Linked DNA regions of Homo sapiens: all the other regions are linked to region 1. Evidence: fine-mapped expression QTL. A gene starts in region 1. Each other region holds a variant in brackets. All regions are shown on one strand. Distances are between the middles of the regions.

The links.
Region 2: its variant is fine-mapped to the expression of SPINT2 in whole blood (TOPMed, PIP above 0.99).
Region 3: its variant is fine-mapped to the expression of SPINT2 in whole blood (TOPMed, PIP above 0.99).
Region 4: its variant is fine-mapped to the expression of SPINT2 in whole blood (TOPMed, PIP 0.96).
Region 5: its variant is fine-mapped to the expression of SPINT2 in whole blood (INTERVAL, PIP above 0.99).

The regions. Positions count from the first base shown.
Region 1 is chr19:38,262,352-38,267,476 of GRCh38, reverse strand. It overlaps SPINT2 (serine peptidase inhibitor, Kunitz type 2), which reads right to left and starts at 2,904. Exons shown (of 7, transcript NM_021102.4): 1 at 2,479-2,904. The coding sequence starts at 2,584. RefSeq lists a silencer at 2,880-3,199 and enhancers at 3,356-4,273, 4,414-5,125.
Region 2 is chr19:38,307,286-38,312,285 of GRCh38, reverse strand. It overlaps YIF1B (Yip1 interacting factor homolog B, membrane trafficking protein), which reads left to right. Exons shown (of 8, transcript NM_001039672.3): 2 at 2,643-2,881; 3 at 2,958-3,062; 4 at 3,229-3,307; 5 at 3,437-3,494; 6 at 4,534-4,689; 7 at 4,765-4,858. Among named protein-coding and RNA genes, the nearest start is that of C19orf33, 5.5 kb to the right of the region's middle. RefSeq lists a silencer at 4,573-4,742. The variant G/A (reference allele first, on the strand shown) is at 2,761.
Region 3 is chr19:38,406,960-38,412,084 of GRCh38, reverse strand. It overlaps FAM98C (family with sequence similarity 98 member C), which reads right to left. Exons shown (of 8, transcript NM_174905.4): 7 at 5,008-5,125; 8 at 3,001-3,334. The coding sequence ends at 3,203. RASGRP4 (RAS guanyl releasing protein 4) reads left to right here. Exons shown (of 17, transcript NM_170604.3): 14 at 704-740; 15 at 836-970; 16 at 1,087-1,199; 17 at 1,989-3,027. The coding sequence ends at 2,045. Among named protein-coding and RNA genes, the nearest start is that of FAM98C, 6.4 kb to the right of the region's middle. The variant A/G (reference allele first, on the strand shown) is at 2,858.
Region 4 is chr19:38,220,130-38,225,254 of GRCh38, reverse strand. It overlaps DPF1 (double PHD fingers 1), which reads left to right and starts at 1,033. Exons shown (of 12, transcript NM_001135155.3): 1 at 1,033-1,141; 2 at 2,547-2,707; 3 at 2,791-2,898. The coding sequence starts at 1,113. RefSeq lists a silencer at 699-1,268. The variant C/G (reference allele first, on the strand shown) is at 1,927.
Region 5 is chr19:38,175,878-38,181,002 of GRCh38, reverse strand. The region is part of intron 15 of SIPA1L3 (signal induced proliferation associated 1 like 3); the gene reads right to left. Among named protein-coding and RNA genes, the nearest start is that of SNORD152, 15 kb to the right of the region's middle. RefSeq lists an enhancer at 5,012-5,125. The variant ACAC/C (reference allele first, on the strand shown) is at 2,907.

The DNA.
Region 1 (5,125 bases):
CTCATGTTTTCATACAGAATAAATTCCTTGACCAACCCCCATCCTCCCTCCCTCACACATTCTCTGTTCACTCCTCCCTCACCACCACACTCATCCAGCAGCACCTGAGCCACTGCATGGAGCTTCAGCAACACCACACTCCCAGTGGATGACTCGCTTCCGGAGAAAACAGAAGCAATCAGGAAGGAGCGAGGAAAAAAAAGTCAAAACTGCCTTCTGCCTCCGATTAAGCTGTTCAAGCTTTCAAACAAACAGAACTTACGATGAGTGAGGGCATGAGTTCACCCAGTCAGACACTAGTACTTCTGAAAGGTCAGTAGGTCCAGTCGGCAGCAGCAGTCAGGTAGGCCACTCTGAACAGAGAAGGCCTCTGCAGTGAGACCTGGCTTTGTCAATTACTACTACCGAGTGACCTCGGGCAAGGCAAGTAACTTCACCACCGCACCCGGCTGTTTCAAAGGTTAAATGGCACATCCCAGCTCAGAGTAAGCACCAGAGGTAGCAAGAGGCCATGTCCCAGCTCAGAGTAAGCACCAGAGGTAGCAAGAGGCCAGGTAACTGGGAGGTACATCCTAACGTAATTACTTAAACTGAAAAAGTCCAGCAGAGCTGCCAAATTCTGGTTCGAATTGCAAGAATGATCAACGTCTGCATTCCTGACTCCCAGTCACCTACAGCTGAGCCTCTCCCCACCAATTCACTTTTTTCTCCTGCCTAGGGCACAGAGAAATTAACCAGTCCCCAGAAGTTACCACAGGTGATGACTTGGTACACACCTAGCCTGCTCTTTTTTTTTTTTTTGAGACTGAGTCTTGCTGTGTCGCCCAGGCTGCTGTGCAGTGGCTTGATCTCAGCTCACTACAGCCTCCGCCTCTGGGCTTCAAGCGATTCTCCTGCCTCAGCCTCCCGAGTAGCCGGGACTACAGGTGTGCACCACCATGCCCAGCTAATTTTTGTATTTTTGGTAGAGACGGGGTTTCATCATGTTGCCTAGGGTGGTGTTGAACTCCTGGCCTCCAGTGATCTGCCCGCCTTGGCCTCCCAAAGTTCTAGGATTACAGGCATGAGCCACATCACCCGGCCTTCTTTTTTTTTTTTTGAGATGGGAGTTTCACTCTTGTTGCCCAAGCTGGAATGCAGTGGCGCGATCTTGGCTCACTGCAACATCCGCCTCCCGGGTTCAAGCACCAGCACCTGTCTATAAAGCCCTAGGCCATCTGGCTGCAGCCAACCTCTCCCACCTCCCATCCTCCTCCAGTCCTCCCCTCCTTCACGCCTGCTCCAGCCAGGCTGGCTCTGTCTTTTCCCTGAACCCAACCAAGCTTGTTCCAGCTTCAAGGCCTTTGTACTCTATTGCCTGCAACTGGACACTGGTCCCCCAGGTCTCCGTGTGGCTACTGCCTCATTCTTCATGTTAGAGCTCAGATGTCACCCTCCTCACGGAGACGTCCCCCGACCACCTGAGCTAAAGCCGCCCCCAACATCTTACGTCACCCTGTTGGTGTACTTCACCTGGTTCATTTAATTCTCAGTAACTTAATCTCATGGCAAGTGCTTTTTAAACCTTCACTAGCTCTGCCTCTCCCACTGGAATATTAGCTCTGTGAATGCAGGAACCCAGCTAGTCTGAGTTAACTGTTATAACCAGCGCCAGTGCCTGACACGTAGCAGGGCCTCAGTAAGTTTTGCTGAATCAATGAATTCTTGCTTTCAAGAGAGCTCTTTTCAAAACACGCTGGTGCTTGTCTGAAGCAGTTAAGGTTATAACAACACTTGTTCAAAGAGACCTTTCAGACCACACTTCCTTAAGAGTGTAGAAGTTTAAATCACCTTATTCACCACCGACTTCTAAGGGCCAATCCAAAGACCCCAACACCAGCTGCTCAACGCCAATACTCTCTCGAGCCTTAGCAGAGCTTCCTCTTCCCCAAAGCTTGTTTCCTTTCTTGCTCCCTCCTTCTCGGGCACCTACTTTACTGCAACTCAACTACAAAAACTTCAGGGGAGGCTCTTGTCCAATCTCCAAAGAGGCAGGGGTGAGATGGGCTTCTTCCGAGTCTAAAACGGCCACCAGGTCACCCAACCCAACCCCCACCATCTCACAGGCCTGGCCTCTCCCTGAGCTTTGGCCATGGAACTTTCCACCGCCAGGAGAAGGCTGGTCTTCAATTCGGCTCCTCACCCCGTTCTTGCCACAGGAAGGGGCAGTGCCACGCCTTCTTGGTCAATACCCCTTGACTCTTCCTCCACCCGAAGGAAACTCTCCTAACCCTCGCTCCTCCGCCCGTCTTCGCTGTCGAAGGCTCCCAAACCTCATTTCAAGGCTCAATCCTCCAGGGCTGGTTCCACCACACCCGCTGAACGCCATCAAGTAGCCCCCAGTTTCCTCCCCCGCCAGTTCTCCCTGCTCAGACCCCCGTTGACCCCCGAGCCTCTGCCCCCTGCGCCCCGCCTCCAGCCTACCCGCCCGGCCCTCACCGTGGATGCTGCGTTCTCGGTCGGCCGCCAGGACCCCAGAGAGGAGCAGCGATCCCAGCAGGGCGAGAAACGCCCGGCTCCGCCTCAGCCCGCACAGCTGCGCCATGGCCAGCTCAGCCGAGACGCGCAGGCGACGCCACCAGCCGTTGGGGTCTCGCGATCAGGTGCGGGAAGCCCCTCAACGCGCACGCGCAATGGAGCGCCTCGCGTTCAGGTGCCGACGCTCCGGGAGGGTCCGCCAGGTGCCAAAGCCCCCGGAAGTCGCCTTTCCGGACCTTCAGTGTGGGGACGCCCGGCCTTCTCGGCGCGCGATGCCTGGGTCTGCTCCTCACTCGCGCCCTCGCCGCCTGCGACACTCAACGGCCCTCAGCGCGTTCAGAGCCGCGCTACACCTCCCAACGCGCGGAGGTCGCCAGAGCCAATGGCGAACGCCTATTGGAAGCGGCTCCCGAAGGTGGCCGGGCAGGCAGGGGGCGGGGCGCACCTGGCTAGGCAGGGCGAGCTGGGCGCAGGCGCAAAGGGCAGGCACCTGCGCGGCCGCTCCCCGGCCCTGGGCGCACCTGGGCCCGCCCCTGGTGCCGGGGAAGAGGCGGGGCTTGCGCGGGCCTCGCCCCCAACAGAACCTGGCGGGGCGGGGCGGGGCGTCTGCCCGCTGAGCACCTGCCACCCTTCCCTTGGGCTTGGTGACGACGTCGGAGGAGGGCCTTCGCTCTAGGACTGGCCTCAGGGTGGGAGGAGGGGGCGGCAGACACGCGTTTCTTGGAAGCCTGTGGTTTTCTGCCCGCCTCGCCGCAGCTTTCCTGTGAATTCCTTCCTGAATTTCAAAGTTCACTGGGCTCATGCTCCAGGGCTTAATGCTGGGGACCCAGCGGTGGCCATGCCAGACTGGTCCCTGAGTCACCAAACAGGAACGGCCCAGAGTAGTGATAGCGGAAGCTTAGCACAAAGTGATGAAAGCTGTGATGGGGAAGGCCAAGCTTAGGGATCAGAGGCTGGGTCGCTAGAAAACCAGGGCATGATGGGAGCCCAGACAGCTTTCCCATCCAGCCTGAGAGAGGGCCAAGGAGGGCTTCCTGGAGGAGGTGATAGGCCCATGCAAAAACAGCCCCGAGCCCTGGCTCCAAGGTTCTCAGGACAGATATGGAGACAAATACTTAGCACAGGCAGCATCAGAATTGAGAGGAAGGAAGCCCCTGGGGAAACCCAGAGAAGACACCTGACCAAGCCTGGGAGTCAAAGAGGGCTTCCTGGAAGAGGAGTTACGTGAACAGACTCTAGAAAGGGGAATGGAGTGGGGCAGGCACACGAGTAGAGGATAGCCAACAAGGTAATCAACATAAATGCATTATTATTGAAAACACTTTTAGATTATTTCTTTTTTTTTTTTTTTTTGAGATGGAAGTTTTGCTCTTGTTGCCCAGGCTGGAGTGCAATGGAGTGATCTTGGCTCACTGCAGCCTTGACCTCCTGGGCTCAAGGGATCCTCCCACCTCAGCCTCCCAAGTAGCTGGGACTACAGATGTGAGCCACCACATCCAGCTAATTTTTAAATTTTTTGTGGAGACAGGGGACTTGCTATGTTGCCCAGGCTGGTCTCAAACTCCTGGCTTCAAGGGATCCTCCTGTCTCATCCTTCCAAAAGTGTTGTATTACAGGCGTGAACCACCACACCTGGCCTGAAAACACTTTGACAGTGCTATACAGAAAAGGAATCAGGGGCTGGGATGGAAAATAACAAGAGATCTTTTGAATGGGGTGGCGGAGGAAGGGCTTTGTGAGGGGTGGCTTTGATAATGAACTCTGAAGGATGATAAAGGCCAAGGGACAAACATTCCAAGAATCAGGAATGGCACATGCGGAGGCCTTCAGGCAGGAAAGAGAATAGTGTGTTCAGGAGCCAGGGCCACTCCCACTCTTCAGCCTCCCTCCTAGCATAATAATACATGAAAAGCCGTAACTGAGTTATCAAAATGGTATTTACCTTAAACAATGGAAGTCTAACCTTGCAATGAGATCATGGGACTCAAGGTGGAATCTGAATGTGAGGCCAAAGGTCTCCCCCAGCACTTGAATCTCCCACTGCCACTCAGGCCTACTAAACCTAGGCTTGAGCATGAAAACAGAGAAGTATGTGCTGAGCCGTCAAGGCTTGGAAGAAGGTATAGGCCTCTTCTTTCTTTATTTTATTTTATTTTGAGACAGAGTTTCACCTGTTGCCCAGGCTGGAGTGCAATGCTGTGATCTCAGCTCACTGCAACCTCCACCTCCTGGATTCAAGCAATTCTCCTGCCTCAGCCTCCTGAGTAGCTGGGATTACAGGCACCACCCGCCACCACGCCCAGCTAATTTTTGTATTTTTTGTAGAGATGGAGTTTCACCATGTTGGCCAGGCTGGTCTCGAACTTCTGACCTCACGATCCGCCCACCTTGACCTCCCAAAGTGCTGGGATTACAGGCGTGAGCCACTGCATCTGTCCAGTTTTGAACTTTAAACACAAAAACTCAAAAGGAGGGCTGAGCGCAGTGGCTCATGCCTGTAATCCCAGCACTTTGGGAGGCCAAGGCGGGTGGATCACGAGGTCAGCAGATCAAGACCATCTTGGCTAACACGGTGAAAAAATCAAAAAGATTAGCCGGGCGTGGTGGC
Region 2 (5,000 bases), 45 kb before region 1:
GCCACCATGCCCTGCTATTTTATATTTTGTAGAGATGGGGTTTCACTATGTTGGCCAGGCTGGTCTTGAACTGAGTTCAGGTGATCTGCCTGTCTCAGCCTCGCAAAGTGCTGGGATTATAGACGTGAGACACCATGCCCAGCCTCTTACCACGTTTTTTGTTTTGTTTTGTTTTGTTTTTTTGAGATGGAGTCTCGCTCTGTAGCCCAGGCTGGAGTGCAGTGGCGCGATCTTGGCTCACTGCAACCTCCACCTCCCCGGTCCCGGTTCAAGCAATTCTCCTGCCTCAGCCTCCGGAGTAGCTGGGATTACAGGCACGCACCACCATGCCCAGCTCATTTTTGTATTTTTAGTAGAGATGGGGTTTCACCATGTTGGCCAGGCTGGTCTTGAATTTCTGACCTGGTGATCCACCTGCCTTGGCCTCCCAAAATGCTGGGATTACAGGCGTAAGCCACTGCGCCTGGCCTCTTCCCACTTCTTAACACACCTCCTCTGAGCACCCCTCAGCAAGTCCTGTCCCTCCTAGCTCTGAAACTGATCCAGAAATAACCCATTCCTCTTTTACACCCCCAGTCCTGTCTGCCATGGTCTCCCACCTGGATCACCCCAGCAGCCTCTCTCCCTTCCCTGCCCACCCCTCATCTGTTCCCCACGTGAGGCCACAGGGACCTTTTAAAAACTTTTGAAACCTGGCTCTCATACTATGACTTTGGGCAAAGGCCTGAGCCTCTTTAGGGCTTGCTTTTCTCATATGTAAAATGGGGATGATGATAGCATTGGCAGCTGGCAGAAACAGGGTGGTTGTGAAGATGAGATGAGTTCATCCACAGGATTATTGTAATATTTATCAGGCACAGCAGGGCTGGACTCCTGCTCTGCCACTCACTCAGTTTGGCCCTTTGCACAAGTCATTTTAGCTGTCTGGGCCTTGGTTTCCACACCTGTAAATTGGGAGTGGTCATTTATTCTGTTTTTTGTTTTTTGTTTTTTTTTTTTGAGACAGGGTCTCACTGTGTTGCCCAGGCTGGAGTGCAGTGGTGCAGTCTCGGCTCACTGCAACCTTTGTCTCCCAGGCTGAAGCGATCCTCCCACCTTGGCCTCCCGAGTAGCTGGGACCATAGGCGTGAACCACCACACCTAGCTAATCTTTCTATATTTTGTAGAGATGGGGTCTCGCCATGTTGCCCAGGCTGCCTTTATTCATTGATCAGGTTTTTATCAAGTGCCTACTCTAACCCTGTGCAAGGGGCTGGGGACTCAGCTGTGAACGAGATCAAGATCCCCACCTTGGGGGACTCACAGTTGAGTGGGGGAGACAGTGAACAAAATAAGACAGCCAGCATGTCAGCTAGTGCCGAGTTCTATGGATATCAGTGAAGCAGGGCAGGGGGTGGGGAGTGCCACCAAGGGAGGTACGGTTGTAGACAGGATGGCTGGGGAAGGCCTCACTGAACAAAGCCCTTGAGGAGGAGAGGAGGGAGCTCTGAGGATGTTGGGGGAAGAGCGTTCCAAGCAGAGGCACAGCTGGTGCAGCGGCCTTGAGGCAGGCACCTTCCTGGTGCATTCAGTGAGCATTGGGAGGCGCAGGTGGCTGGAGCCAAGTCATTGAGGGGGAGCATAGGAGATATGGACAGCGGCCTTGTGTAAAAGGCTTGGTACAGGATTTTGTGCCCAATAGCCCCCCCTTCCTCTCGCACATAGTAGCTTTTGAGATAATCATCATCATTGATATCTGGATGGATGGATGATAAGTGGATGGGTGGGTGGGTGAATGGATGGTTAGATGGATGGATGATGATGGATGGATGGATGATAGATGGGTGGATAGATGAATGAGTTGGTGGATGGATAGATAGCTTGGTGAGTGGATGGATGGATGGATAGATGGAAAGATAAATGCATCAGTGGATGGATAGTTGGCTAGATAGGTGGGTGGATGGGTGGATGGATGGGTGGGTGGGTGGATGGATGAATGGGTAGGTGGATGGATGGATGGGTGGGTGGGTGGGTGGATGCATCATTAGATGGATAGTTGGCTAGATGGGTGGTGGATGGATGGATGGTTGGATAGGTGGATGGATGGATGGATGGATGGGTGGATGGATGAATGGATGGATTGATGGGTGGGTGGGTAGATGGATAGATGGATAGATGGGTGGGTGGATGGATGAATGGATGGATTGATGGGTGGGAGGGTGGATGGATGGATGGGTGGATGGATGAATGGATGGACAGATGAATGCATCAGTGGATGGATAGTTGGCTAGATGGGTGGGTGGATGGATGGCTGGATGGATGGATGGATGAATGGATGGATGGATGGATGGTTAGATGGATAGATGGATGGATGGGTGGGTGAGTGGGAGGGTGGGTAGATGGATAGGTGGATGGATGGGTGGGTAGATGAATGGATGCATAGATGAATGTATCAGTGGATGGATAGTTGGCTAGATGGGTGGGTTGGTGGATGAATGGCAGAGCTTGCACCTGCCAGTCCATCTGACATCAAAGCCAGTGTCTCTAATGGTGACACCACCCTCCTCTGCAGCAGGAGGCAGAGCTGTGGGATGAATGAGGTTCGCCAGGTCTCCCTTACCTATCCTGGGTCCCCAGCTCCTTCTCACTCTCTTCCCTTGCAGCCTCGAAGCGGAGGATCCCTGTGTCCCAGCCGGGCATGGCCGACCCCCACCAGCTTTTCGATGACACAAGTTCAGCCCAGAGCCGGGGCTATGGGGCCCAGCGGGCACCTGGTGGCCT[G/A]AGTTATCCTGCAGCCTCTCCCACGCCCCATGCAGCCTTCCTGGCTGACCCGGTGTCCAACATGGCCATGGCCTATGGGAGCAGCCTGGCCGCGCAGGGCAAGGAGCTGGTGGATAAGAACGTGAGTGGGCGGGGCTGGTGGGAGTGGGGGGATGCACGGGGCCACAGGGCTTCAGACTTGAGCTCTGCCTCCCCAGATCGACCGCTTCATCCCCATCACCAAGCTCAAGTATTACTTTGCTGTGGACACCATGTATGTGGGCAGAAAGCTGGGCCTGCTGTTCTTCCCCTACCTACACCAGGTCAGCACCCCCAGGGGAATGTGGGTCTGCAGTGGGCCTGTGGGGGGCTCAGGGGTGGGGGCAGGTGCATGGTGGAGCCGGGAGATTCGCCTCGAGGGAGGAGGGCCTGTAGCAGGGTGGGAGGGGCCTGGCTCTGAGGGTCCTGCCCGTCTCCCCATCCCCGCAGGACTGGGAAGTGCAGTACCAACAGGACACCCCGGTGGCCCCCCGCTTTGACGTCAATGCCCCGGACCTCTACATTCCAGGTTTCACCCTCCCCCTACCCTGCACCCTCCTCTCTCTTCCGGGCCTATATGGAGCGGGTGTGTGGGTGCCTGGAGGCCCAGGGCAGTTCTTCCTCTGGTGACCAGTGTCTGTGTGTCTGTCTCCCACAGCAATGGCTTTCATCACCTACGTTTTGGTGGCTGGTCTTGCGCTGGGGACCCAGGATAGGTAAGGGAGGCCTGGGGCAGGCCGAATAAGGTGGGGTTTGGGAGGCCCATGGTTGGTCAGGAAGGTCTCAGTTCCAAGGTCTCAGTTCCCCTTTCAGGACAGCCCCACTTTGCTCCCAGTTGGCCCAAGATACAGCCCTCAGGGTCACTGTCAGCATCACCCTCGCCTCTTCCCTGTCCTTCCTACCCACATGCATTGCGTCACCATCCCCTGTGCTGGGTGACCCTTCTCCATCCACCCTTCCTCTTGGCCTCTACTACCAGACCCATCCTCATCCTCCCTCTGTCATCACCAGCTCCCCACTGCACCCCTACTCCAGCAGCAGCCAGGATGGTCCTGTCTGAGGTGCGGGCCTGGCCCACCCTGCCCCGCCCTGCTATCCATGGCTCCCAATCAAGCCCCAGCTCCTCAGCCTGGCACTGCCCCTCCCGCTGCACGCTCCGGTCTATTCCTTTCCTTGGGAGGGCTGGCACTGTCTCCTGGGGCCTTGTCACATCAACTCCCCTCTGCCCAGGAGCGTGTTCCCCTCCACTACTGCCGAGTACCTGCACATCCCTGCTGGCTCCATTCCAGTATCACCTCCTCCGGGAAGCCTTCCTGCCCCCCAGGCTAGATCAGGCCCCTCCTCTTGCTCACATCGCCCTGTTCTTTTCCTTTATGGCACTGAACACATCTGTCATTAACTAACTGGTGAGGCCCTGGGGATGTGGCAGAGGCCAAGGGCTTTGTCCCTGACCAGCTCCTTCCTGCAGGCTTCAGCTCGGTGTCCCCTCTCCTGGGAAGCCCTCTCTGACACCTGTCTCCTGACTGTCAGCACAGCCCCCTGTGACTCCAGCCCTGCCTGCTCTGGGTGTCACTGTCTAGGGATGGGTCTGCCATCCTCTCTGGATGGGATTTCCGTGGGAATAGGATAGCGCGCACATCCATCTTGGTCACTGCCAGGTGTCCAGCCCTACCCAACACAGAGCTGTCCCCAGATGGGTGCTGGGGGTGGGGGGTCTGAACCAGCCAACCAAGTGGCGGGGCTTTGTGCCTGCAGGTTCTCCCCAGACCTCCTGGGGCTGCAAGCGAGCTCAGCCCTGGCCTGGCTGACCCTGGAGGTGCTGGCCATCCTGCTCAGCCTCTATCTGGTCACTGTCAACACCGACCTCACCACCATCGACCTGGTGGCCTTCTTGGGCTACAAATATGTCGGGTGAGTACCCCCGCCCTTCACGCCAGCCCCAGCCCTTGGGCCTTGTCCTCACACAGCCTCCTCTCCCTCCCCCAGGATGATTGGCGGGGTCCTCATGGGCCTGCTCTTCGGGAAGATTGGCTACTACCTGGTGCTGGGCTGGTGCTGCGTAGCCATCTTTGTGTTCATGGTGAGCTGGGCTCGGGGCTGGTGAGGCTGAGGCACAGGTGCCCCGGAGGCATCCAGGCATCCAAGCAGAGGATGTCAGGTGTGGGGTTCAGACCAGAGACACATTGCTGAACTGAGGAGCCCTGGAGTGGCTGCCCGGCCTG
Region 3 (5,125 bases), 140 kb before region 1:
AACCTGGATAATCTCCAAACCGGGTAGATTATGTTCAAACAGAATCATCCTCCAAATCTCTAGACTCCAGATCATTCAAACTCTGAATAACTTCCAAATTCAAGAGATCCTCAAACTCTGGCTAGTGGATCAATCTCTCAACCTATAACCCGAGACTAATTCACAAACCTTGGATTACTTCCCACATTCATTTATTCATTCATGAAATATTTACTGAGCACCTCCTGTGTGCCAGGTAATCCTAGGCCCTGGGGTTACAGCAGGAATACAGCAGACAACTCTTGCCCATAGAATTTGCATTTTAGTAACTCTAAATTTTACCTAAATCTAATATCTGAGGTGATTATCTAAACTTGAGATAATCTCCAAGTTTCCTTTATTTATTTTGTTAAGAGATGGGTCTTGCTCTATTACCCAGGCTGGAGTGCCGTGGTACGATCATGGTTCATTGCAGCCTCCAATCCTGAGCTCAAGCGATCCTCCCACCTTGGCCTCCCAACCTCCCACCTTGGCGTCTCAAAGTGCTGGGATTACTGGCATGAGCCACTGTACCCCACCCACATTCCTTTAATTCCAGTTAAATCTCTAGCCTTGAGAATTTCAAAACCTGGGTAGCTTCCACACTTCCACTCCCCAGCTGCCCTGCCAATCCACAGCCCTCCCTCTCCTAGGATGGGTAACCTTTTCTCCTTTCTCTTCCCAGCTCTGGGGTGTCACCAAGCAAGGCTACCGCTGTCGGGGTGAGTGGGGTGTCAGTGAGTGGGAGGGAAGCCTTGGCCCGCAGGCTGGAAGAATGGATGACACAGATCGGACCCCTGCCGCTGCCTTCCCCCAGAGTGCGGGCTGTGTTGCCACAAACACTGCAGAGACCAGGTGAAGGTAGAATGTAAGAAGAGGCCAGGGGCCAAGGGCGATGCAGGACCCCCCGGAGCTCCTGTCCCATCCACACCAGCTCCCCATGCCAGCTGTGGTAAGACCTAGAGCACACCGGTGCTGGGAAGGGGCCTGGGGGAAAGGGGTTGAGTCCAAGGTCAAGAAGAGGTCCTTCCCATCAGACCCACATCCCTTCCATCCACCCACAAACAGGCTCCGAGGAAAATCACTCCTACACGCTATCCCTGGAGCCTGAGACTGGGTGCCAGCTTCGCCATGCCTGGACCCAGACTGAATCCCCACACCCTTCCTGGGAAACAGATACGGTGAGGAGAAACCGCCCCTACCCCCAAGTGGATACAGGGGACACAGGCCATTGGCGTGGGGAAGACTGGACAGATTTGGAGACCCATAGAAAGTACAAATATGCAGAAGTCCTTGACTGCTGGGGTAGGAGGGTATGGATACTGGTTACTTTTTAATATTGATAGAAAAATAGGCTGGGTGTGGTGGCTCATGCTTGTAATCCCAGGACTTCGGGGAGGCTGAGGTGGGAGGATCACTTGAGGTCAGAAGTTCGAGATCAGCCTGGCCAACGTGATAAAACCCTATCTCTACTAAAAATACAAAAATTAGCCAAGTGTGATGGCGGGTGCCTGTAGTCCCAGCTACACGGGAGGCTGAGGCAGGAGAATCACTTGAGCCCGGGAGGCAGAGGCTGTAGTGAGCTGAGATTGTGCCACTGCACACCAGCCTAGGTGACAGAGCAAGACCCTGTCTCAAAAAAAAAAAAAAAAGAAAAATAGAAGTTTCAACATGTTGGGGGTAGGGTGGGGACAATAACCACTAGGAGAACAGAAAAAAGGATTCTAGCCAATAAGATAGCAAGAATAAGGCCAAATATATCAGGAGCTACTGTACGGGTTAATGGAGTAAACGCCACTATTTGAGGGCAGAGACTCTCAGATTGGGTTACAAAAAGGATTCCACAGGGGACGTTCATTCATCCACTTACCAGTCTGGGCAGGGAAGTGTTCCTGGCAGTGAAGCGTCTCCTAGACATCATATGCTCCCCACATCATCTGTCATCTTTCTTCCTCCCTTCCTCCTTCCAGGTCCCCTGCCCGGTGATGGACCCACCATCAACTGCATCCTCCAAGCTGGATTCCTAGACATCTCTTGGTCTCCTCTCTTCCTCACTCCCTTCCCCCAGTCAGTCCTGAGTCCTGCCGTCAGACTCTGGCAGGGCTCCCAGAGGTAGGCCTCCAGAGGCATCCGCCTTCCCATCCACACTGCCTTTAGTGGTACGTCCGTCATCTTTTTCCCTGGAAGTGACTTTCCTCTTTTGCATCCTGGTGGATGCTAATCCTGCTCCCTTTCCCTGCACTTAGTATCTGTGCGGCTGTGTGTTGGATACATTTAGACTCAGGCCTCATTCTACCAACTCCCTACATCTCCATTTCTTTTTTTTTTTGAGACAGAGTCTTGCTCTGTCACCCAGGCTGGAGTGCAATGATGCAATCTCAGCTCACTGCAACTTCCGCCTCCTGGGTTCAAGTGATTCTTCTGCCTCAGCCTCCCAAGTAGCTGGGATTACAGGCACGCGCCACCATGCCCGGCTAATTTTTGTATTTTTAGTAGAGACGGGGTTTCCCCATGTTGGCCAAGATGGTCTCAAACTCCTGACCTCATGATCCACCAGCCTCAGCCTCCCAAAGTGCTGGGAATACAGGCGTGAGCCACCACGCCCAGCTCCTGTTTTTCTGCATAGAATGTGCTCCCTCTGACAGCCTATACTTTTTCCCTCTTTATCTCGTTGAACGTCTGTCTTTCCTCAACAGGAGCATCAACTCCAGGAGAACAGGGATTTCTATCAATGTCATTCACTGCTGCATCCCCAGTGCCTAGAACAGGGCTGGCAGGTGGTAGGCGCCTGACAGATGCTTGTCTGATGCCTGAATGTCTCCTTACCCATGCCCACGGC[A/G]CAGGATAGATGTGCTATAGGGCAAAGAACTTTGAGGGTCGAGCAGCAGGGGCCCATTCAGTCCCAGGGAGCAGAGACCCCCCCAACCCCTTCACAAACCCCAACACCCCTGACTTGGCCCCCACAGAGAGAGGTCCTACAGCTGTCATAAATTAAATTTATTCTCTGGAGAACATGGTTCTTGGTATTGACGTGAATGGGAGCAGGGCATTTGGGGACTCAGGAATAGGAGATGGGGGGCTTGGGTGCCAAATACCAAGGAAAGCCTTAAACGGACTCCCCAGAGATTACCGATAGCATTAGCATCTCATGGAGGACCCCCCGCCCCCGACCACCAGTCCCCCTTTACTTCTTCTTCTTCTTCTTGCGACCCCAACACTGGGGGCCTCCATCCTCTCTTCGGCTCCTCCAGGTGGGCATGGGAGGCTCCAGCTCATTTGGGCGGCCCCCCCGGTCTGGAACGTTGCCCATAAGCACCTGAGAGTTTATGAGATTTGAGTTGCAGAGAAAAAAAGTATCTTGGACAAGGGGGCCAGAGAGCGAAGGGAACAGCATGAGGCTGAAGAAGAAACAGCAGATGTTGACTATTTGAGTACAGTGGCTGGGGGAGGGGGGACTGAACTGGTGGAAGATACTAGCATGAGCTTTCTTTTTTCTTTTCTTTTTTTTGAGACGGAGTCTCACTCTGTTGCCCAGGCTGGAGTGCAGTGGTGTGATCTCAGCTCACTGCAACCTCCACCTACCGGGTTCAAGAGATTCTCCTGCCTCAGCCTCCCAAGTAGCTGGGACTACAGGTGCGTGCCACCACGCCTGGCTAATTTTTTATATTTTTAGTAGAGACAGGGTTTCACCGTGTTAGCCAGGATGGTCTCGATCTCTTGACCTTGTGATCCGCCCACCTTGGCCTCCCAAAGTGCTGGGATTACAAGCGTGAGCCACTGCACCCAGCCTACTTTTCTTTTCTTTTTTTTTTTTTGAGACAGAGTCGCCTAGGCTCTGTCGCCCAGGCTGGAGCTCAGTGGCGAGAACCCGGCTCACTGCAACCTCTGCTCCTGGGCTCAAGTGATCCACCCACCTCGGGCTCAGTTTTTTTCTTAACTTAAATTTTGCCTCAATAGTTGCTGTGTTAGACTTTATTCCCTAATACTCATTTTACATAAGACTACTTACAGAGGCATGCGGCTAGATACCTAATCACTAAAACAGAGGGTATTTCTGTTTTTTGTTTGTTTGTTTGTTTGAGACAGAGTCTTGCTCTGTCGCCCAGGCTGGAGTGCAGTGGTGCCATCTTGGCTCACTGCAAGCTCCGCCTCCTGGGTTCACGCCATTCTCCTGCCTCAGCCTCCTGAGTAGCTGGGACTACAGGTGTCTGCCACCACGCCCGGCTAATTTTTTTTTTGTATTTTTAGTAGAGATGGGGTTTCACCGTGTTAGCCAGGATGGTCTCGATCTCCTAACCTCGTGATCCGCCTGCCTCGGCCTCCCAAAGTGCTGGGATTACAGGCGTGAGCCACTGTGCCTGGCCTATTTCTGTCTTTGTTTTTTTTTTTTAAATGGTTAAAAGGGTGCGGTTTCTCACACCTGTAATCCCAGCACTTTAGGAGGCCACGGCGGGTAGATCACAAGGTCAGGAGTTCAAGACCAGCCTGACCAATATGGTGAAACCCCGTCACTACTAAAGATACAAAAATTAGCCGGACATGGTGGTGGGTGCCTGTAATCCTAGCTACTCGGTAGGCTGAGGCAGGAGAATCGCTTGAACCCGGGAGGTGGAGGTTGCAGTGAGCCAAGATCAAGCCACTGCATTGCAGCCTGGGTGACAGAGCAAGACTCTGTCTTGAAAAAAAAAAAGGTTAAAAAACAACAAATAGGTAGTGTTTGGTGATAGGGAAGGATTTTAAGCCCAAGCTGGAGAAGTAGCCAGGGACTCAGTAAATAGCTAGACTTTGTTTTCAGATCATTAGGGAGCCACGGAAGCATTCTGAGCTGGGGAGTCCACAGTCAGTTTTTGTGTGAGCGAGGTCCTTCTAGCTGCCATGTCTAGTGGGTGGATTAGAGGTGGTAAGTCTGAAACTTGGACTGGAGCAGAGGCTGAAAGGCCAATCTGAAGGCCAAGGATGCCAGGGCCCTTCCCTACCCCAGATGCCCACCTTGTTGATGGCACAGCAGGTCCCTCTGCGGACAGCCACGCTGGTGGCTGGGACGAGACAAGACAGGTCGGCTCGGGCAGCCAGAACGTGTGCAATGGAGATGTCCGATTCTGGGGTC
Region 4 (5,125 bases), 42 kb after region 1:
ATTTATTTTTGAGAGGGAGTCTCACTCTTGTTGCCCAGGCTGGAGTGCAATGGCACGATCTCAGCTCACTGCAACCTCCACCTCCTGAGTTCAAGTGATTCTCCTGCCTCAGCCTCCTGAGTGGGGGAGTATAAGCATGCGCCACCATGCCCGGCTAATTTTGTATTTTTAGTAGAGACTACTACCATGTTGGCCAGGCTGGTCTCGAACTCCCATCCTCAGGTGATCCACCTGCCTGGGCCTCCCAAAGTGCCGGGATTACAGGTGTGAGCCACTGCGCCTGGCCTGCCAGTCACCTCTTAAAATGCTTTACCTATATTTACTCATTTAATCCTCACAACACTCCAGTGAGGCATCATCCTCTTTTTACAGATGAGGAAACTGAGGCCCAGAAAGGTTAAGTCATTTGCCAAGGTCACATGGCCACCAAGTGGCAGAGCTAGGATTTGAACCCTGGAGGTGTGACTACTGTTTCTAACCTGCACTGCTGCTGTCAGGCCTGCAGAAGGCGTTGAGCAGGGCGGGGTGACCGTGAGCGTGGCTGCTGGGAGAGACAGCCCCGGGTGGGGTCTCTGGAGCCAGGAGGGACTTGGGTGGGGGGCGGTGAGGGGGTGTCTGCTGGAAGCATGTTGGTGAGAAGTCTGTGTGGGCACCTGGGAGGTGTCTCTGCGTCTCTTAGTATTGCAGTGTGTGTGCGTGTGGCTGTGTGAGTCCGTGCGAAGGTGTGTGAGTAGGAGTGTGTGGGAGGCTGTGAGTATCCGCGTGAATGTGTGTGTAAACTGCCATGCGTGGGCGTGTGCGAGTCCAGGTGTGCATGTGGTTGTGTGCACGCGAGAGCAGGATATGTGGACGAGTGAGGGCGGGTGAGTGACGGTGCGTGCCCCGGGCCCCTCCTCCGCGCCGTCCCGTCCCCGCGGGGTCCCGGGGGCCCCCTGGCCTGGGACTACCACTCCCAGCATGGCCCGGGCGGGCCCGCCCCGTCGCCGCGATTGGCCGTGGCCCTCGTGCTCCCGCCCCCCGGGAATGAATGGATGGGCGGCCTCAGCGCCCGCCCGACCGCTGGGAGGACCGACCCGGCGGGGACCTGCTGGGGGCAGGACCCGGGGAGCAAGATGGCCACTGTCATCCCTGGCCCCCTGAGGTGGTGCGGGCCGGCGGGAGGCGGAGAGGAAGCGCGGGCGGGTCTACGCGGGCCTGTGTGTGTGTGGCGACCGGGGGTGGGGCCGAAGGGGTGTCTGGGGGGCTGTCACCGAGTGCGGGGCTGCGCGGGGGTGCGAGAGTGTGTGACTGTGGGTCTCTGACAAGAATGGTGTCGGATGCACCGCTCCCTGGCGGGGTGGAGGGCGTGGGGGGCCTCCAGATTCTTTTTGGGGAAGGGAGACATCATCCCTTCCCTGCAACCCTCGGGTCTGGGAGAGACTGAAATGACCCGGGGGTGCGGGGGCCTTGGCAACTGGAGTGAAGTCCACACTACCTTTGTCTTGGGATGTGGAGTGTGTGTGTGTATCACTTATTTGTGTTCTGGTTTTTTTAAGAATTTTTGGGGGATAGGTGTGTGGACATGTGTCTGTTTCCTTTTATTCTGCACTAGATATCTTTGGATATTTGGGTCTCCCAGTGTGTGTCCGTGTCCTTTGGAACTATATGTCATTTGTCTTGTGTTCTGTGTTTTTGGGTATGTAGGGCTGCGTGTATTTGTGTGTAAATTTTTGTGTGACTATGGGTGGATTTGGCTGTTTCTGTGTTTTATATGTGTGTGTGTCTGTGTGGATGTGTGATATTTTAGATACTGGTTGCGCATCGTGCATCTTTGTAAATGTGTGTGTGTACCTGTGTGAATCTGTGTGATTTCTTTGTGTTGTGTGTCTGGATATTGTGTGTGTGGTTTGTGTTGTGTCTTTGGATACATGGGTAAGTGCCTAGGGG[C/G]GCAAGTGGTTTCTGTAGTTCCTGTCTTTTGACATGCTTGTGTCTTTGGATGCATGAGGGGGTGTATGTGTGTGTGGTGTGATGTTTCCATGTTGTGTGTCTTTGTGTGGGTGATGTGTTTCTGGTGTGTGTCTGTGGATATGTGATGTGTCTTTGTGCATGGTTATTTGTGTGATTTGTCTCCACACTATGGAACTTGGGATATTTGTCTTTTTCAGTAGATATTTATGTGTGCACGTGTGTGAGGTTTGTCTGTTTCTCCTTTGTGAGTATTGGGATTTGTCTCTCTTTGTGTGTGAATCCCGTGTGACTGTGTGTGATTTGTGTTGTGTGTCTGCATGTGTTCAGGTAGGGATACGTCCCGGTGTGTTTTTGTTTGTTTCTGTATCGTGTTTCTACTCATGAGCTGGGGGCCTGTTTGAGTCCCAGTTTGGGGGCCCCTGGGCCCTGTCCCCTTCCCCCAGCCTGGGTCCCGGAGTGGGAGGAGGGGAGAGGTGAGGCTGGAGGGGTCGGCCCACCCCTCCCGAGCCTGGGCGGCCCGGCAGCCGGGGAAGGGGTGCTGGGCGACCCTGTGCGCCTGCCCTTGCTGACAGCCGCCCGCCCGTTCGCCGCCCCTCTAGCCTAGGCGAGGACTTCTACCGCGAGGCCATCGAGCACTGCCGCAGTTACAACGCGCGCCTGTGCGCCGAGCGCAGCCTGCGACTGCCCTTCCTCGACTCGCAGACCGGCGTGGCCCAGAACAACTGCTACATCTGGATGGAGAAGACCCACCGCGGGCCGGGTACCGCCGGGAGGGCTGGCGCAGGGCGGGGCGGGGCCAGGCCGCCCCACCGCCGCCGCCCTCTCACCCCCCTCTCTCTCCAGGTTTGGCCCCGGGACAGATTTACACGTACCCCGCCCGCTGTTGGAGGAAGAAACGGAGACTCAACATCCTGGAGGACCCCAGACTCAGGCCCTGCGAGTACAAGATCGGTGGGTGCAGCCGCTGGGGCCCCCATCGGTGTCCCAGCGCCTGCTGTGTGTCCTAGCACTCGTCCATCACCTTTATCGCCTTCTAGCAAGTGTCTGCCTGGCTGGCTGTGTGTCTGTCTGCCCATGTGCGTCCCGGGTGTTTCCCAGAGATTCCACAGTTTCTCTGAGTCACTGAGTGGCGACTGCATCTCCTCCTACATGGGCCCAGGTGCCCAGTTGTTGTTATTTATTTATTTATTTATTTATTTATTTATTTTTGAGACAGAGTTTCACCCAGGCTGGCGTGCAATGGCGTGATCCCCCAACCTCCACCTAGCGGGGAGTTGAACCTTGAACCCGCAACTTCCGCCTAGCAGGTTCAAGCGATTCTGCCTCAGCCTTCCGAGTAGCTGGGATTACAGGCATGCGCCACCATGCCCGGCTGATTTTGTATTTTTAGTAGAAACGGGGTTTCACCATGTTGGTCAGGCTGGTCTGGAACTCCTGACCTCAGGTGATCTGGCCACCTCGGCCTCCCAAAGTGCTGGGATTACAGGTGTGAGCCACCGCGCCTGGCCTGTTGTTTTTTAAATAGAGGCAGGGTGTTACTATGTTGCCCAGTCTGGTCTTGAACTCCTGAGCTCAAGGGATCCTCCTGTCTCAGCCCTCCAAAGTGCAGGGATTATAGGCGTGAACCACCATGCCCCACCAAGGGTCCCAGTGGTATTGGAGGGCATAGTGATATCTGTTAGGTGTGTGTGGGTGTATGGAGTTGCTGACTGTGTCCCTTCCCCTGGGAACTGGGATGGATCAGTCTGCCTGTATTTTTTTTTTTTTTGAGATGGAGTCTGGCTCTGTCACCCAGGCTGGAGTACAGTGGCGCAATCTCAGCTCACTGCAACCTCCGCCTAGTGGGTTCAAGCGATTCTCCTGTCTCAGCCTCCTGAGTAGCTGGGATTACAGATGCACACTGACATGCCCGGCTAATTTTTTTGTATTTTTAGTAGAGACAGGGTTTCACCATGTTGGCCAGGCTGGTCTCGAACTCCTGACCTCAGGTGATCCACCTGCCTTGGCCTCCCAGAGTGCTGGGATTACAGGCTTGAGTCACCATGCCCGGCCATCTGCCTGTATTTTTTTCTGTGGGTGCCTGAGGGTGTCTGCCTCTGTATCTCCCCAAGGGCGTCTGGATGTCTCAGTGTCTGGTTGGAGCTCTTTCCTCTCTTAGGTGTATCTTCCCAGGTGTCTCCAAGTGTCTTAGAAGGCTTGTGTCTTGTGTATGTCTGGTCTGTCAGGGTGTCCGGCTCCTCCCGAGTGTGTCTGGGTGTGTTAGGCGGTGCGGCCGTCTCTTTCTGTGGGTGTGTGGGTGCCTCGGAGTGTCTGGGAGAATCTTCCTGATGGTGTCTGGCGTATCAGGTGTATTTCTGCACGTGTGTGCCAGTCCATCAGAGGATCTGGACTTACCCTTGAATGTGTTTAGGAATATCGGGATCCTCGGGGTCAGTTTCTCTTCCTGAGTCCGAGGGTCTGTGTGTACCCAGGAGCGTGGCAGTGCCCACCTGGCTGTGTCTCTTCCTGTCTGTCTCCTGTGTGTGTTTGTGTGTATCTAGCTGAGTGATTCTCCCTGAGTATGTCGGTATCTCCCCGCTATGTGTCCAAGCATCTCATCTGGCTGTGTCTTCCCCAGGGTCTAGGTGTATCTGGAGGGCTAATTGTTTCTTTCTTTTTTTCTTTTTTCTTTTTCTTTTTCTTTTTTTTTTTTGAGACGGAGTCTTGCTCTGTCGCCCAGGCTGGAGTGCAGTGGCGCGATCTCACTGCAAGCTCCGCCTCCTGGGTTCACGCCATTCTCCTGCCTCAGCCTCCCGAGTAGCTGGGACTACAGGCGCCTGCCACTACGCCCAGCTAATTTTTTGTATTTTTAGTAGAGACGGGGTTTCACCGTGTTAGCCAGGATGGTCTCGATCTCCTGACCTCATGATCTGCCCGCCTCGGCCTCCCAAAGTGCTGGGATTACAGGCGTGAGCCACCGCACCCGGCCTCTTTCTTTCTTTCTCTTTCTTTCTTTCTTTCTCTTTCTTTCTCTCTCTCTCTTTTTCTTTTCTTTCCTTCCTTCCTTTCTTTCTTTCTTTCCTTCCTTCTTTCTTTCTTTCTCTCTCTTTCTTTTTCTTTTCTTTCCCTCCTTCCTTCCTTCTTCCTTTCTTTTTTTTTTTCACCCAGTTTGGAGTGCAGTGGCACGATCTCGGCTCAC
Region 5 (5,125 bases), 86 kb after region 1:
GAGAGGAGAGAAGGGGCAGAAAAAATATTTGAAGAAATAATGGTTGGAAACTTCTTAAATCTGATGAAAACCTTACACATCCAAGAAGCTCAACAAACACCAAGTAGGAAAAATACAAAGAGATTCACACCTAGAAAAGGAGTTGAAAGTTAAATGCTGGCCGGGCGCGGTGGCTCACGCCTGTAATTCCAGCACTTTGGGAGGCCAAGGCGGGCAGATAACCTGAGCTCAGAAGTTCGAGACCAGCCTGACCAACATGGAGAAACTACATCTCTACTAAAATACAAAAAAATTAGCCAGGTGTGGTGGCGCATCCATATAATCCCAGTTACTTGGGAGGCTGAAGCAGGAGAATCGCTTGAACCCGGGAGGCGGAGGTCGCGGTGAGCCGAGATCACGCCATTATGCCGTTGCACTCCAACCTGGGCAAAAAGAGTGAAATTGTCTCAAAAAAAAAAAAAAAAAGAAAAGAAAAAAAGAAAAATGCTAAGATAAACATCTTGAAAGCATCAAGAAAAAGATGATGCATCGCATATAGAGGAGCATCAATACAATTAGCAGGCCTATAATCCCAGCACTTTGGGAGGCCAAGACGGGAAGATCACTCAAGCCCAGGAGTTGGAAACCAGCCTGGGAAACACAGTGAGACCCCACTTCTATAAAAAAGAAAAAAAAACACAATTAATTGCTGACTTCTCATTTAAAAGAATGAAATAAAATGTAACTTTTAAAGTGCTGAAAGAAAACAACTGTTAACCAGGAATTCTATACCCAGCAAAACCATCCTTGAAAAATGAAGGCAACAGAAAGATGTTCCTATATAAACAGAGATGGAGAGAATTTGTTGCTAGCACACCTGCCTGATACAAAATAATTTTAAAACTCCTCGGGTTAATCCCAGCACTTTGAGAAGCCAAGGCAGGTGGATCGCCTGTCAGGAGAGCTCGCAGCCTGGCCAATATGGTGAAACCCCATCTCTACTAAAAATACAAAAATTAACTGAGTGGTGGCGGGCACCTGTAATCTCAGCTACTCAGGAGGCTGAGGCAGGAGAACTGCTTAAACCCAGGAGGCAGAGGTTGCAGTGAGCTGAGATTGCGCCACTGCACTCTAGCCTGGGTGACAGAGTGAGACTCCATCTAAAAAAAAAGAAAAAAAAAGTCCTCAGGCTGAAAGAAATGACTCTAGACAATGACCTGAGTCAGTAGACAGAAATGAATAGCCCAAGATGGCAAACTGTGGTTTAAAATAAGATTCTATAAAAGTATATGCTTTCTTATTTCTTCTCTTAACTTCCTTAAAGACATAAGACTGTATAAGGCAATAATGACAATACTATACTGCTGGGTTAAAACACATATGGATGTTTATGATAAACAGAGCACAAAAAAGGGAGAAGGAAATAGGACAATATTGGAGAAAAGTTTTATATTTTATTGGAATTTAGTATTAACCTGAATTGCAGTGATAGACGCACATTATAATAACTAAAAAGATAGTTACACAAGAGTAGAATCCAAATGTTATACTAAATTATATATATTTTTTATTTTTAACTTTTGAGACAGAGTCTTACTCTGTCACTTAGGCTGGAGGGCAGTGGTGCAACCTTGGCCCACTGCAACCTCCGCCTCCCTGGCTCAAGCGATTCTCCTGCCTCAGCCTCCTGAGTAGCTGGGATTACGGGTGCATGCCACCACGCCCAGCTAATTTTTGTATTTTTAGTAGAGACAGGGTTTTGCCATGCTGGCCAGGCTGGTCTCGAACTCCTGACTTCAGGTGATCTGCCCGCCTGGGCCTCCCAAAGTGCTGGGATTTTACAGGTGTAAGCCACCACATCCGGCCTGAAACTGTATTTATTTACTACAGTATAAGGCAGTAAGGAAGAACAGAGGAGCAAGAAAGATAGTAGACATACAGAAACAATAGCAAAATGGCTAATGCAAATCCAACCATTAGCAGTAATAATTACATTTAACGTGAATGGTCTGAACACTCCCATCAAAAGGCAGGGATTGTCCGACTGGATTGAAACAGCAACTATGTAATGCTTTCCACAATTTAGCAACATCTATCAATGGAGCAAAGAGTAGGCATTGGTGAGGAGATGTCCAGGGAACTACTGAAGCATGTAACACCAAGAATGGTCAGGAATGCTTTCCCCAGGAGACAAGAGCATCAGAACTGAGAACTGAAGGATGACTGGCTTCAGCTTAACATTTGGCCTGGCTGGGTGTGGTAGCTCATGCCTGTAATCCCGGCACTTTGGGAGGCCAAGACGGGCAGATCATGAGGTCAGGAGATCGAGACCATCCTGGCTAACACAGTGAAACCCTGTCTCTACTAAAAATACAAAAAAATTAGCTGGGCATGGTGGTGGGCGCCTGTAGTCCCAGCTACTCGGGAGGCTGAAGCAGGAGAATGGCATGAATCTGGGAGGCGGAGGTTGCAGTGAGCCGAGATCGCACCATTGCACTCCAGCCTGGGCGACAGAGTGAGACTCCATCTCAAAAACAAAAACAAGACATTTGGCCTCCCAGAAATCCATGCAATAGAAAAGCCTGCACAAGGCCGGGCATGGTGGCTCATGCTGTAATCCCAGCACTCTGGGAGGCTTAGGTGGGAGAACTGCTGGAGCCCAGGAGTTGCTGTAGAGACTCTATCTAGGGACGGGGTCTTGCTATGTTGCCCAGGCTGGTCTTGAACTCCGGGGCTCAAATGATCCTCCCACCCCAGCCTCCCAAAGTGCTAGGATTACAGTTGTGAGGCACCATGCCCAGCCCTAGAGACCCTGCCTCCACAAAAAAATAAAAATAGCCAGGAATAATAGCACATGCCCATAGTCCCATAGTCTTAGCTACAAAACACACACACACACACACACACACACACACACACACACACAC[ACAC/C]ACACACCAAAAGCCTGCACAAGCACACACAGGCAGGTATGAGGACGGTCTCTGTAGTACTGTTTATAATCAGGAAAAGTTGGAAATGGCCAGGCTGGAGTGCAGTGGTGTGATCTCGGCTCGCTGCAACCTCTGCGCCTCCGGGGTTCAAGCGATTCTTGTGCCTCAGCCTCCTGAGTAGCTGGGATTATAGGCATTCACCACCATGCCTGGATAATTTTTGTATTTTTAGTAGAGACGGGGTTTCACCATGTTGGCTAGGCTGGTCTTGAACTTCTGGCCTCAAGTGATCCACCTGCCTCGACCTCCCAAGGTGCTGGGATCACAGGCATGAGCCACTGCGCCCTGCCGCAAGCATATCCTTATGATCAAAAACTATGCAGCCAGTGCAAAGGTCAATCTCTGTTTATGTATGAGGACAGATGGTCTGAACTATAGTAAATGGAAACGATGCATGGTATAAAACATGATTCTGTGTATTTAAGGGAAAAAATATATAGATAGATATACACACATATGTATAGAGAAAAAAAGAAATAAAGTAGAATTTTATACTTTTTTTTGTCCTTTTTTCCCCCTTTTTGTGGGGAATGGGGTCTCACTAAATTGCCCAGGCAGGTCTCGAACTCCTGTGCTCAAGCTATCCTCCTGCCTCTGCCTCTCTGAGAGCTGGGATTACAGGCATGAGTCACTGCGCCTGGCAAAATAAACTAGAATTTTTTTTTTTTTTTTTGAGATGGAGTCTTGCTCTGTCACCCAGGCTGGAGTGCAGTGGCGCAGTCTCAGCTCACTGCAACCTCCGCTTCCCAGGTTCACGTCATTCTCCTGCCTCAGCCTCCTGAGTAGCTGGGACTACAGGCGCCCACCACCACACCTGGCTAGTTTTTTCTATTTTTGGTAGAGATGGGGTTTCACCGTGTTAGCCAGGGTGGTCTCGATCTCCTGACCTCATGATCTGCCCACCTTGGCCTCCCAAAGTGCTAGGATTACAGGAGTGAGCCACCGCGCCCGGCCCAGCTAAACTAGAATTTTTAAAAAGTCACTGTATTTCTTGCAAGGTAAGGGTTAAGTGGCATGTTTTTTGTTTGTTTGTTTGTTTTTTTGTTGTTTGTTTGTTTTTTTGAGACGGAGTTTCACTCTTGTCGCCCAGGCTGGAGTGCAATGGCATGATCTTGGCTCACTGCAACCTCCGCCTCCCAGGTTCAAGCGATTCTCCTGCCTCAGCCTCTCGAGTAGCTGGGATTACAGGCATGTGCCACCACACCCAGCTAATTTTGTATTTTTAGTAGAGATGGGGTTTCTCCATATTGGTCAGGCTGGTCTTGAACTGCTGACCTCAGGTGATCCACCTGCCTTGACCTCCCAAAGTGCTGGGATTACAGGTGTAAGCCTCCATGCCTGGCCTAAGTGGTATGTTTGAAAGAACTGGGTTGGTAAAGGTTTAGAGAAAAATCTCTGGAGGAGTGTACACTAATGGATTCTCTCTGAAAGTAGTAATGATGGGGAACATGTACGGAATAAAAGTCAAATTAAGCTGGGCATAGTGGCATATGCCTGTAGTCCCAGCTACTTGGGACGCTGAGGTGGGAGAATCGCTTGAACCCAGGAGTTTGAGGCTGCAGTGAGGCATGACTGCACCATTGGATTCCAGCTTGGGTGACAGAGTCCCCATCACTCAAAAAAAACAAAAAACAAGCAAATAAAAAAAACAAAAAAAAAACCAACCCTAAAAAAAGTCTAATTAAACTACATAAATGGCACAGGGTAAAAAGTAAGTGGCCAGCCGGGTGCAGTGGCTTACGCCTGTAATCCCAATACTTTGGGAGGCTGAGGCGAATGGATCACCCGAGGTCAGGAGTTTGAGACCAGCCTGGCCAACATGGCGAAACCCCATCTGTACTTGAAAAAAAAAAAAAATTAGCCAAGTGTGACGGTGTGCACCTGTAATCCCAGCTACTCAGGAGGCTCAAGTGATTCTCCTGCCTCAACCTCCTAAGTAGATGGGATTACAGGTACCCACCATTATGCCTGGCTAATTTTTGTATTTTTTAGTAGAGACGGGGTTTCATCATGTTGGTCAGGCTGGTCTTGAACTTCTGACCTCATGATCCGCCCGCCTCGGCCTCCCAAAGTGCTGGGATTACAGGCGTGAGCCACAGCGCCCAGCCTGAACGTTCTTTCTTTCTGGAGCGCCAGTGTGCCCATGCGTCCTCCTG